Regions from separate parts of the Homo sapiens genome. Here region 1 is linked to region 2. Evidence: fine-mapped expression QTL. A gene starts in region 2. The other region holds a variant in brackets. All regions are shown on one strand. Distances are between the middles of the regions. Region 1 has its middle 33 kb from the start of ANKDD1A. Region 2 holds the start of ANKDD1A (ankyrin repeat and death domain containing 1A).

What was found. PIP is the estimated chance that this variant, and not a neighbour inherited with it, causes the effect. A credible set is the group of variants that fine-mapping cannot tell apart.
Region 1: its variant is the best candidate, but not a certain one, in a credible set for the expression of ANKDD1A in regulatory T cells (Bossini-Castillo 2019, PIP 0.67).

The regions. Positions count from the first base shown.
Region 1 is chr15:64,875,885-64,881,197 of GRCh38, reverse strand. No RefSeq gene overlaps it. Among named protein-coding and RNA genes, the nearest start is that of ANKDD1A, 33 kb to the left of the region's middle. The variant A/G (reference allele first, on the strand shown) is at 2,960.
Region 2 is chr15:64,909,435-64,914,757 of GRCh38, reverse strand. ANKDD1A (ankyrin repeat and death domain containing 1A) reads right to left here and starts at 2,856. Exons shown (of 15, transcript NM_182703.6): 1 at 2,794-2,856. The coding sequence starts at 2,827. RefSeq lists an enhancer at 2,101-2,644 and silencers at 2,831-3,010, 3,211-3,260, 3,334-3,628.

The DNA.
Region 1 (5,313 bases), 34 kb after region 2:
AGTGATCCTCCCTCAGCCTCCCGAGTAGCTGGAACCACAAGCACGTGCCATCACGCCCAGCTAATTTTTGTATTTCTTGTAGAGATGACGTTTTGCTGTGTTACCCAGGCTGGTCTTGAATTCCTGGCTTCAAATGATCCTCCCACTTTGGCCTCCCAAAGTTCTGGGATTACAGGTATAGGCCACTGTGCCTGGCCTAAAGGTTTTAACTTTAACTTTTTGAGTTATTGATCCATCTAGAGTTGATTTTTTGTGGATAGTGTGAGGTAAAGATTTCTTTTTTCTTTTTCGAACGGGTAACCAAATTTCTAACTCTATTTATTGAATAGTCTAGGGCCACTTTTTAAAAATTTTCTGGAGCCAATCTTAACTGGGTCTTGAGGGGACAGGAGGAGGGTCTAGCTGAAATTTGACTGACACAGAATTCCCTATTAGACTGACCAAGGACTACCTGGGTCACATTCAATGAGTCTAGAGACAAAAGTAGTTCCCACCTGCCTCCGAGCTCAGCACTATTTTTATTTATTTATTTGTTTATTTATTTATTTTTTGAGACGGAGTCTCGCTCTGTTGCCCAGGCTGGAGTGCAGTGGCACGATCTCGGCTCACTGCAAGCTCCGCCTCCCAGGTTCACGCCATTCTCCTGCCTCAGCCTCCCAAGTAGCTGGGACTACAGGTACCCATCACCACGCCCGGCTAATTTTTTGTATTTTTAGTAGAGATGGGGTTTCACCATGTTAGCCAGGATGGTCTTGATCTTCTGACCTCATGATCTGCCTGCCTCGGCCTCCCAAAGTGCTGGGATTACAGGCGTGAGCCACCGCGCCCGGCCTATTTATTTGTTTATTTGAGACGGAGTTTCGCTCTTGTTGCCTAGGCTGGAGTGCAATGGCGCGATCTTGGCTCACTATAACCTCTGCCTCCCGGGTTCAAGTGATTCTCCTGCCTCAGCCTCCCAAGTAGCTGGATTACAGGCATGAGCCACCGCGCCTGGCCTGACTATTTTATTAATAGATGTAACTTATGTGTATGGCAAATAATAATAATTCAGATAGTACTGAAAAGTATCCAATTGTTGGTTGGGCGAAGTCACTCACACCTGTAATCTCTGCACTTTGGGAGGCCAAGGTGGGTAGATCGCTTGAGCTCAAGAGTTTAAGACCAGCCTGGGCAACTTTTATAGAGACTCCATCTCTACAAAAAATACAATAAATTAGATGAATGTGGTGGCATTTGCCTATTGTCCCAGCTACTCAGGAGGCTAAGGTGGGAGGATCGATTGAGCCTGGGAAGTGGAGGCTGCAGTGAGCAGTGATGGTGCACTGCACTCCAGCCTGGGCAACAGATACCTTTTCTCAAAGAAAAAAGAAAAGAAGAAAGAAAAGTATCCAATTAAAAATTAAATTATCCTACCTCCAGAACCACTACCCAGAAGTAACTATGTTAATAGTGAATGATTTTTATATCCATGTAGTGTAGGAAACTAAAAAAAAAAAAAAAAAAAAAAAAAAAGTGAATAATTTTTCACTGCTGTGAATCCTCTCCCTGACTGTAAATAACACACTCATGCTCTATTTTTTTATTTAGCATTTCTAGAGTAACTCTAGTTATTCTCTGCTGGAAAAGTTTGTTTCCTTTCATCTACCCCATCTCTCCTCCCTCCTCACCTTATTCCCAATACTCGGTCTTTTAAAAAATAATGTTAGGCCAGGCACAGTGGCTCACGCCTATAATCCCAGCACTTTGGGAGGCCGAGGGTGGGTGGATCACCTGAGGTCAGGTGGATTACAGACGTGAGCCACCGCGCCTGGCCTGACTATTTTATTAATAGATTTAACTTATGTGTATGGCAAATAATAATAATTCAAATAGTACTGAAAAGTATCCAATTGTTGGTTGGGCGAAGTTACTCACACCTGTAATCTCTGCACTTTGGGAGGCCAAGGTGTGTAGATCGCTGGTTCAAGACCAGCCTGGTCAACATGGCGAAACCCAGTCTCTACTAAAAACACAAAAATTAGCCGGGCGTGGTGACACGCACCTGTAATCCCAGCTACTTGGGAGCCTGAGGCAGGAGACTCGCTTGAACCCGGGAGGCGGAGGTTGCAGTGAGCCGAGACTGCGCCACTGCACTCCAGCCTGGGCAACAGAGTGAGACTCTGTCTCAAAAATAATGATAATAATAATGTTAAATGTTCTGCCAAATCCTGAAGCTGCTGCCACAGCTGTATTTCAGGAAGCCCAGCCTGTGAGGATGCCGTCCCCCCTCCGCAGGAAGACGTCAGACAGGACACTTTCCATCACCCTGCTTCCTGATTCCAGGCATCGATGCTGAGCTGGACAGAAGGAAAACAGCCTTTTGGTGTCTGAGACAACAGCACAAATGACAGGACTGGCCTTCTTTCCTGAATGGGAAGAGGGTGGGGAGAAGAATGCTGCAGTGACCCGAGCTTGTTGATGCCCTGCCACAGGCACCCCAGGTGGCCTTGGGCAAGTCCCTTCTCTTGCCTCTCCACCTGTAAAGTGTAGGTTACTGGGGTCCCTTCACCTTAGACTTTCTTTGGTCAGAGCTACAGAAAGAGGTGGCTGTAGGGAGGACTTTCTGAAAAAGAGTAAAAAGGCTCTCCTTGCTCAGGAGGCTGAGGTAGGAGAATCGCTTGAACCTGGGAGGCCGAGGTTGCAGTGAGCCAAGATCGCAACGTTGTGCTCCAGCCTGGGCAACAAGAGCAAAACTCCATCTCAAAAAAAAAAAAAAGAAAGAAAGAAAGAAAGGAAAAGGCTCTTCTGAGAGACAGAGTGATGATACAATGATAGTAACAGCCACTGCTTCCTGAGGGCCTCCCGTGGGTACTGGGTGGGCATCGTCCAGGTGCCACGCATGCGTGATCCTATTTAATCTCCAAGCTCTCAGGTGGGCACAATTCTCCTCGTTTAACTGATGAGGTAACTGAAGAGCAGA[A/G]GTTAGGCGACTTGTCAAAGCTCACAGAGCTGAAAGGTCTGTGCCACATATCTGGTCCCATCTGCCACCTAGTCTTGTTGAATATCTTGTATATTTCAAAATGCTGAAAAACTCCGGGGTCCCTCTGGCCCTCCAGAAACAAATTGGAAGATACTTCCTGAGTTCATGGAACCCTGCCTCCCAGATCCACTGTAGAGACTGACCTTGGCCCAAGCCTGAGGGGTGATTTTGAGACAAATTCCTCTCAAGGGGAACCTTTTCACAGAGAAAAGAAGAGGGCTGTTTAGTCTGAGGAGACTTTTGCTCACCCATAGCAGGCACCCCAAATGTTCAGAATGACTTGGGATCTATTCTTCTCCCCTGGCCTTCCCCAGAGACAGAGCTGTTTGCACTCTCCTCATCCCACTGACCAGCACACTCTCACCCACACCACACCCTGGGCACTCTGGGGACCCACAGGCCTCAGCCTCAGCATGGCCTGGCGCTGGCCACAGCTGGGGCAGGGCTGCTTCCCTTCAGACCCAAGGCCACAGGCTGGAAGGAAATGGAGGTGGGAGGGGCCCAGAAAAGCTGACTAGGCTGGAAGGCTGGTTGGGAGGGAGGAAGCACAGAAAGGCCAGCCCAGCAATTTGGGCAAAGCTGGCAAGGCTGCCTTGGCATCTCTGCGGATTCAAGGCCACAAGGGCCTCACCTTGGCCACCCAGCCCCGGCTTGTGGCCAGGAGGCTGAGGAGAAGTCCTGATTGGGTCACACTCTGAGGGACTGAATCAGAACTTGGCCCTGGCTACCAAGACTATTGGACTCTTTCCCCTACCTGCAGCTCAGGGGTGTGGCTAGTGGGCAAAGAAATGCATATATATATGTTTGTTTGTTTTGAGACAGAGTCTCGCTTTGTTGCCCAGGCTGGAATGCGTTGGCATGATCATAGCCCACTGTAACCTGGGACTTATGGGCTCAAGGGATCCTCTCACTTCAGTGTCCTGAGAAGCTAGAACTACAGGTGCATGCCACTGCACCTGGCTAATTATTTTGTAATATTTTGTAGTGACAGGGTCTTGCTACATTGCCCAGGCTGGTCTCAAACTCCTGGCCTCAGGTGCTCCTCCTGCCTCGGCCTCCTGAAGTGCTGGGATTACAGGCATGAGCCACGGAGCTCAGCCCGCCTCTATCTTAAGCCTCTTCCTTGAGGCTCCAACCTGGGTCTCTGCTTCAGAATTCAACATCAAGAAATGAATAAAACAAGGGCCCAGCCTGAGCAAAATAGTGAGACCCTATTCCTACAAAAAATAAAAATAGTTTTTAAAACAGAAATGAATAAAACAAAAAGACACAAACAAAACAAAGCCTCTTTGAGGACAAGAGCCCCACTAAGCTGGGACAAATCTGATAAAACCCCAGAGCCTAGGTCTGGGCTGCTGCTGAACTCTCCTGACATTATGGTCTGCCAGGGACAGGTGTCTTTGCACATCTACGGTGACTAGTCCACTCACTCTACACCCCGTCCTGGTTGTGGCAAAGAGACTATACGTTGTCCACCTAGGTCAGGGTTTCTCAACCTCAGCACTACTGATATTTTGGATGAGGAGCCCCCAAGATGTTGTCGGGGAGGCTGTCTTGTGCATTGTAGGGTGTTCAACAGCATCTCTGGCCTCCACCCACTAAATGCCAGTAGCAATGTCCCCATTTGTGACAAAAATATCTCCAGACATTGACAAATGTCCTCTGAAGGCAACATCATCCCCATTTGAAAAACACTGCTCTAGCTCCATTCCCTCCCTTCTTTTTTAGTAATAAGACTTTTGATTTTCAGCTGGCACACAGTCAACAGGAAAAAAAACACCAGGCAGCTAGCTGCAAGACCACCCTCGCAATGAGGCAGCAGTACAACTTCCAGAAAGTGTCTCTAAAGGGAAAGTGTGCATCCTATACCCCTTCTTGCTTCCCAAGGGTGAGAACACTTATGCGGGGGCTGCAGCTGTATCACCTCATGGGTCCAGAAATCAAAGTCAAGGGGTAAGATGGCAGAGCAGTAAGAGGGAAGGAGGCTGGGTCCCAGATGACCATGGAGTGCCATGATAGAGATGGCCTCTACCACCAGACTTAATTCATGCAAGATAAATGAATTTGTGTCACTGCTGTCTTGGCCTAACTCCCCCGGAGCTGAGGTTTAGCCTCTGATGAACTCTTCTGACACCATGGCCTCTTGTCAGTCACAGTCAAATCTAATCTTAAGTAACATACAAGATATAACTCAGCAGTGCTTGTGGCTTTAATTATCCACTGTCTGGATGCCCGTTGACTGTCAATTTTTTGCCTCAGCTCAATTCTAGTAGTTCACCAGACCCCTCCACATG
Region 2 (5,323 bases):
CTGCCATCATCCTGACGGCTCTTGATTGTGAGGATGTCTAGTCTCCATGGCTAGACTTCAAGTATTTTGGAGGCCCTGGCCACACTTGACCCTTCCTGATCCACCCACAGCTCACAGCAGGCCCAAAGGTGGGCACAGGAGGAACCCACAAAACTCTGCTTTTGAGCCAGGCATGGTGGCTCATGCGTGCAATCCCAGCACTTTGGGAGGCCAAGGCAGGAGGATGGCTTGAAGCCAGGAGTTCAAGACCAGCCTGGGCTAAAAAGCAAAACCTCCATCTCTACAAAAAAGTTTTTTTAAAAATTAGCCAGGTGTGGTGGCACATGCCTGTAGTCCCGGCTACTCAAGAAGCTAAGGCAAGAGGCTTGCTTGAGCCCAGGAGTTTGAGGCTGCCAATGAGCTATAATTGCACCTCTGCACTCCAGCCTGGGCAACAGAGTGAGACCCTGTCTCTAAAAAGAAAACAAAAACAGGCTGGGTGCAGTGGCTCACACCTGTAATCCCAGCTCTTTGGGAGGCCGAGGTGGATGGATCACGAGGTCAGGAGATCAAGACCATCCTCGCCAACATGGTGAAACCCCGTCTCTACTAAAGATACAAAAATTAATTGGGCATGGTGGCACACACCTGTAGTCCCAGCTACTCGGAAGGCTGAGGCAGGAGAATTGCTTCAACCTGGGAGCTGGAGGTTGCAGTGAGCCGAGATCATGCCAGTGCACTCCAGCCTAGTGACAGAGCGAGACTCCATCTCAAAAAAAAAAAAAGAAAACAGAAACAAAAAAATCTCTGCTTGTATGAGTGACACCAACAATCCCCAGACGAATAGATGCCTGTCCCCTCTCCCAAAGTGCTCACACATACTAGCACAGAGACAAATATTTGCTGGCCCTTTCCATAGTCACTGCAGGGCAAGTGACCCCATAGCCTGCATGTTTGGTCCAGTATGAATGTCTGAACCCAGCCCCTTTGTGTATCCAGGGACAGGTGACGAGTGTCTTGGTAGGGAAGGCTAAGATGCACTGAGGTGAGAGACAGGCCTGCCATGCAGTTTGTTTTTCTAGATAAATTCCACACAGTCTTCTCCAGATGAGAAAGAGGATCTTGAGCTTTCTGGGGCCTCATGGATACAACCTGTGGATCTCAGAGTTGCTACCCTGGGGGGCAATCACACAGTCCTGGGTTCAACTCTGGCTTAACCACTTCCTAGCTGTGTTAGGCAGTTTCCTCATCTGCAAAACAGGAGTGCGAGCTTCCCTACAAGGTTAATATCATGATTAGAAATGAGATATGAAAACCCCCTGGCACAGTGTCTGGCACATAATGACCACACCGCCACCACCACCACCATCATCATCACTATTATTCCTCCAAGGCAAAGGGTCAAATTCTGGTAGCCAAAGAGAGCTGCCACTTCAGATGTGAGCTTACAGAGGCCTGGGTTCTAGTACCTTCCCTGCCACTTTCCAGCAGCAGGATCCTGGGCTAGTCACATCCCCCTTGTAGGTCTGTTTCTTCCATTGTAAAACTGGGGGAGGGTGAAGAAAGAGATCTGTATAGGTCCCTTCCTGTCTGGCACCCTCTATCTTATGTGCAGCTTAGGGGGATTGGCCTGGTTTGTATTGGCAAACAGCCAGGAGTTCCAATGGGAAGCCAGCAGACACTGCATAGGGTCAGGCCAGAGAAGGTTAAGTTAGAATGAAATCAAGTCCAGTCTCATCTCTTCCATCCACCTCCCATCCGGCACCCTCTTTCTGGCCACATCCAATACCCACTGAGCTACCTGAGCCTTTGCCCATGCTGGGTCTTTGTCCAGAATTCTCTGCCACACACCCCAATGCTCCATTGGTACACATTCTTCGCAGGCCCACTCAAGTGATCCTCCGCCCCAGGCAGAACCATGTACCTAATCTTGATTGAGCATTCCCACCCCCAACACATCCCTCAGCTGAGTAGATGCAGTGTGCCAGCATTTTGGACACTATAGGTCTCAAAGGAATCCAGTGAGCTGCACTATGCGCTTTTGAGGGAAAGCCCCGGGATTCAGCTGTCAGGATTCAGCCAGGGCTGCAGGATCAAGGACTCACAGTGCAGACACCGACACAATCTTTCTCTCCCCTCTCCCAGACGGTGCAGCCAAAGCTGCCCCAGGCCAGCTGATGCCCACACAGACGCTGCTGCCCGGCCTAGAGGCCCTGGCACTGGGCGCACTCCTTGAGGGAGGTTCGGAGGTGCCCTCATTCCACCTGTGGCCAGTCAGGCTCCTCTCCTCTGAGTGCGTGCCCCATCTGATGCGGTCTCCACTCGCTATCCAGCCCCAGCATTCCGGGTGAGCTGGGCCCTTCAGCACTTCTACCACTCAATGGCTGTGTGACCTTGAACAACTCATTTGAACACCCTGTGCCTCAGTTTCTCATCTGCGAAATGAAGATAACATAATGTCCTACCCATATGGCCGCAGCGAAGATCAAATGACGTGCCTCTCCTGGGTCAAGGCCTGGCACACAAAGTACAGCACGCAGTCAAGGATCGCTATTACCTTTATTATTTGTAGCTAACCTCTCAGCCGCTGCTCCCCGCTCACCTGGCGGGTGTGGTCCCCGAGTCCCAGACGCACTGGCAAGGTCCCCTCGGCCCAGTGCGCGGACCGGTAACCATTCCGCTCGGAGCCACACAGACGCCCCACACGGAGGTGGCCGTTCGGAGGGCGCCAACCTCACCCCTGGCACTCCCCAAACGGATGCGGGGGTCCTCTCGGCCTCGGCCCGCCCCCCTCCCTCCTCCAGGCAGACTCACGGCCGTCGGTCTCCCACGCCAGCTCCTCCTGCATCCTGCCGCTCCGCAGCCCCTGCGCGCGCTGGTGCCCGGGCGCGAGGCGCGCGTCCGCCGGGGCGGGGCCCGGGGAGCCGAGAGGACGGGGCGGTCGCTCCTCCAGACTCCACGCCCCGCCTGCTAGGAGCGCAGCTGCCCCGGCCACCCCAGTCCCGGACCAGGACGCAGGTCCCTCCTCCTGCTCTCTTAACCTGCCCACCCCTCCGCGCCCGAGGCCGGCGGGTCGGGGCCACGCCGAGTTCCGCAGGTGTCCCTGACCCAGTCTCCTCCCCGGGAGTTCGCCCAGCCTCCCCGGCCCTGGAGATAGATGCGCACAAGGCATCTGGCAGGCTCATCCTCCTCGCGCCTCTCGGGACTCGGGGAGGAGGGCTGAGCCTTGGGCCCGCCGCCTCAGGCGCAGAAAGTCAAACCCCAAAGATGTGAGCTGGCGTTTAAGGGACCACAACCTCAGCAGGTCTGCAAGCATATGAAGAGATGGTCGGATTTATCAGTGTTCAGAAAGATTTATCAGGCCCATAAAGGGACATGTAGGAGGATGTTGGTTGCTGTGTTGCTGTGGTTGCTGGGAGTTGGAGACAATCTAAGCGCCCTTTCTTGTAAGAGCAGATGGATAAACTGTGCAGCACTCAAAGCAAGGGACCCGCTGTATTCGTGGCAATATGGATTTAAACACCTAGTGCTAGGCAGAAAAAGTAAATAACCAAACCAAATAAGACCTAGGAAACAATATCAATAAAAATATTACAAATGCATTTACATCAAACAACACAGACTTGCAAAGACACATAGAAACAAAAAGATACACATTAAATACACCAGAATGGGTTGCACTTCAGACCCTTGGGGGATGTCCATGTCCTTTTTGCCTTAAAGGCATTTACAGCTTCTTTGAATTTAGGGATAATGGGGTCTCAGGCATCTCTATCCCAAGGCAAGAAGCCAGCAAAGCCATGATAGGTGTAGTTACTACTACTTTGGGGATCAAAGGAGGAAGAGCATCTTTCAGTCATTAGTCCTTAGAATATAGTTCAAGAAGGCTTCCTGAAGAAGGAGGTATTTGGAATGGCCTTTGAAAAATAACATAATGATAACAGCTAACAATTAATGAGCCCTGAGCCAACCCCTCAAAATGGTCTCAAAATAACAATTCCAACATAATAATCAAAGATATGATTTTTTTTTTTCTGAGACAGAGTCTCACTCTTTCGCCCAGGCTGGAGTACAGTGGTATGATCTCGGCTCACTGCAACCTCTGCCTCCTGGGTTCAAGCAGTTCTCCTGCCTCAGCCTCCCATGTAGCTAGGATTACAGGCACTCGCCCCCACACCTGGATAATTTTGTATTTTTAGTAGAGATGGGGTTTCACTATGTTGGTCAGGCTGGTGTTGAACTCCTGACCTCAGGTGATCCACCTACCTTGGCCTCCCAAAGTGTTGGGATTACAGGTGTGAGCCACTGCGCCGCACCCCCCCCTTTTTGTTTTTGTTTTTTTTTTAAGACAGAGTCTCACTGTGTTGCCCAAGCTGGAGTGCAGTAGCGTAATCTCAGCTCACTGCAACCTCTGCCTCCCAGGTTCAAGCGATTCTCATGCCTAAACCTCCCAAGTAGCTGGGACTACAGGTGTGTGCCACCACACGCGGCTGATTTTTGTATTTTTAGTAGAGACGGGGGTTTCACCATGTTGGCCAGGCTGGCCTCGAACTCCTGACCTCAGGTGATCTACCCACCTAGGTCTCCCAAAGTGCTTGGCCACCACGCCTAGCCAAAGATATTATTCCTGAAAACAGTTTAAATGTTTTTTGTAAAGCTTTTGTCACATGTACATCCCACTAGGGGCATAGTGTCACGTTACTGTTTTAGTCACTTGGAATAGTTCTTTATGTGGTTATGCCACCAACTCAACATGCATGGTTTATTTATTTTGTTTTGCTTTTGTTTTTTGATATTTTTAAATGTTAATTTTGCTTTACAATTATGTAAAGTATTTACATGTTTCAAAGTTAAGTCTCTGAAGGTTGTCATAGTCAGCTGTGGTGATGGATGAAGAGGGCACCACTGGCTTCCAGCCTGCTGTCACTCTCCTTCACTCCACATCCAGCTTTTCTTCCCAGCTGCTGAGCCTGCTGACCAACAGTGGCCCCAGGCCATCGCGGACTTGGCTGCAGACCCAGGGCATTAGTACCACCCATAGACCTCCCCAGGAGCTTTCCCTTGTGGTTCCATTTTAGCAGCTGGACATACTTGGTTTCTCAGATGACTGACTAAGGACTCCTCTGATCCCCAACTCCCCTTCTGGTCCTTCCGCAACTGTGTAAGGCAAATTACTATCACAGATCCCTAATCCCAGGGGTCTCCAACCCCCAGGCTTCAGACTAGTACTGGTCTATGGCCTGTTAGGAACTGGGCCACACAGCAGGAGGTGAGCAGCAGGAGAGCGAGCATTACCACCTGAGCTCCGCATCCTGAAAGATCAGTGGTGGCATTAGATTCTCAT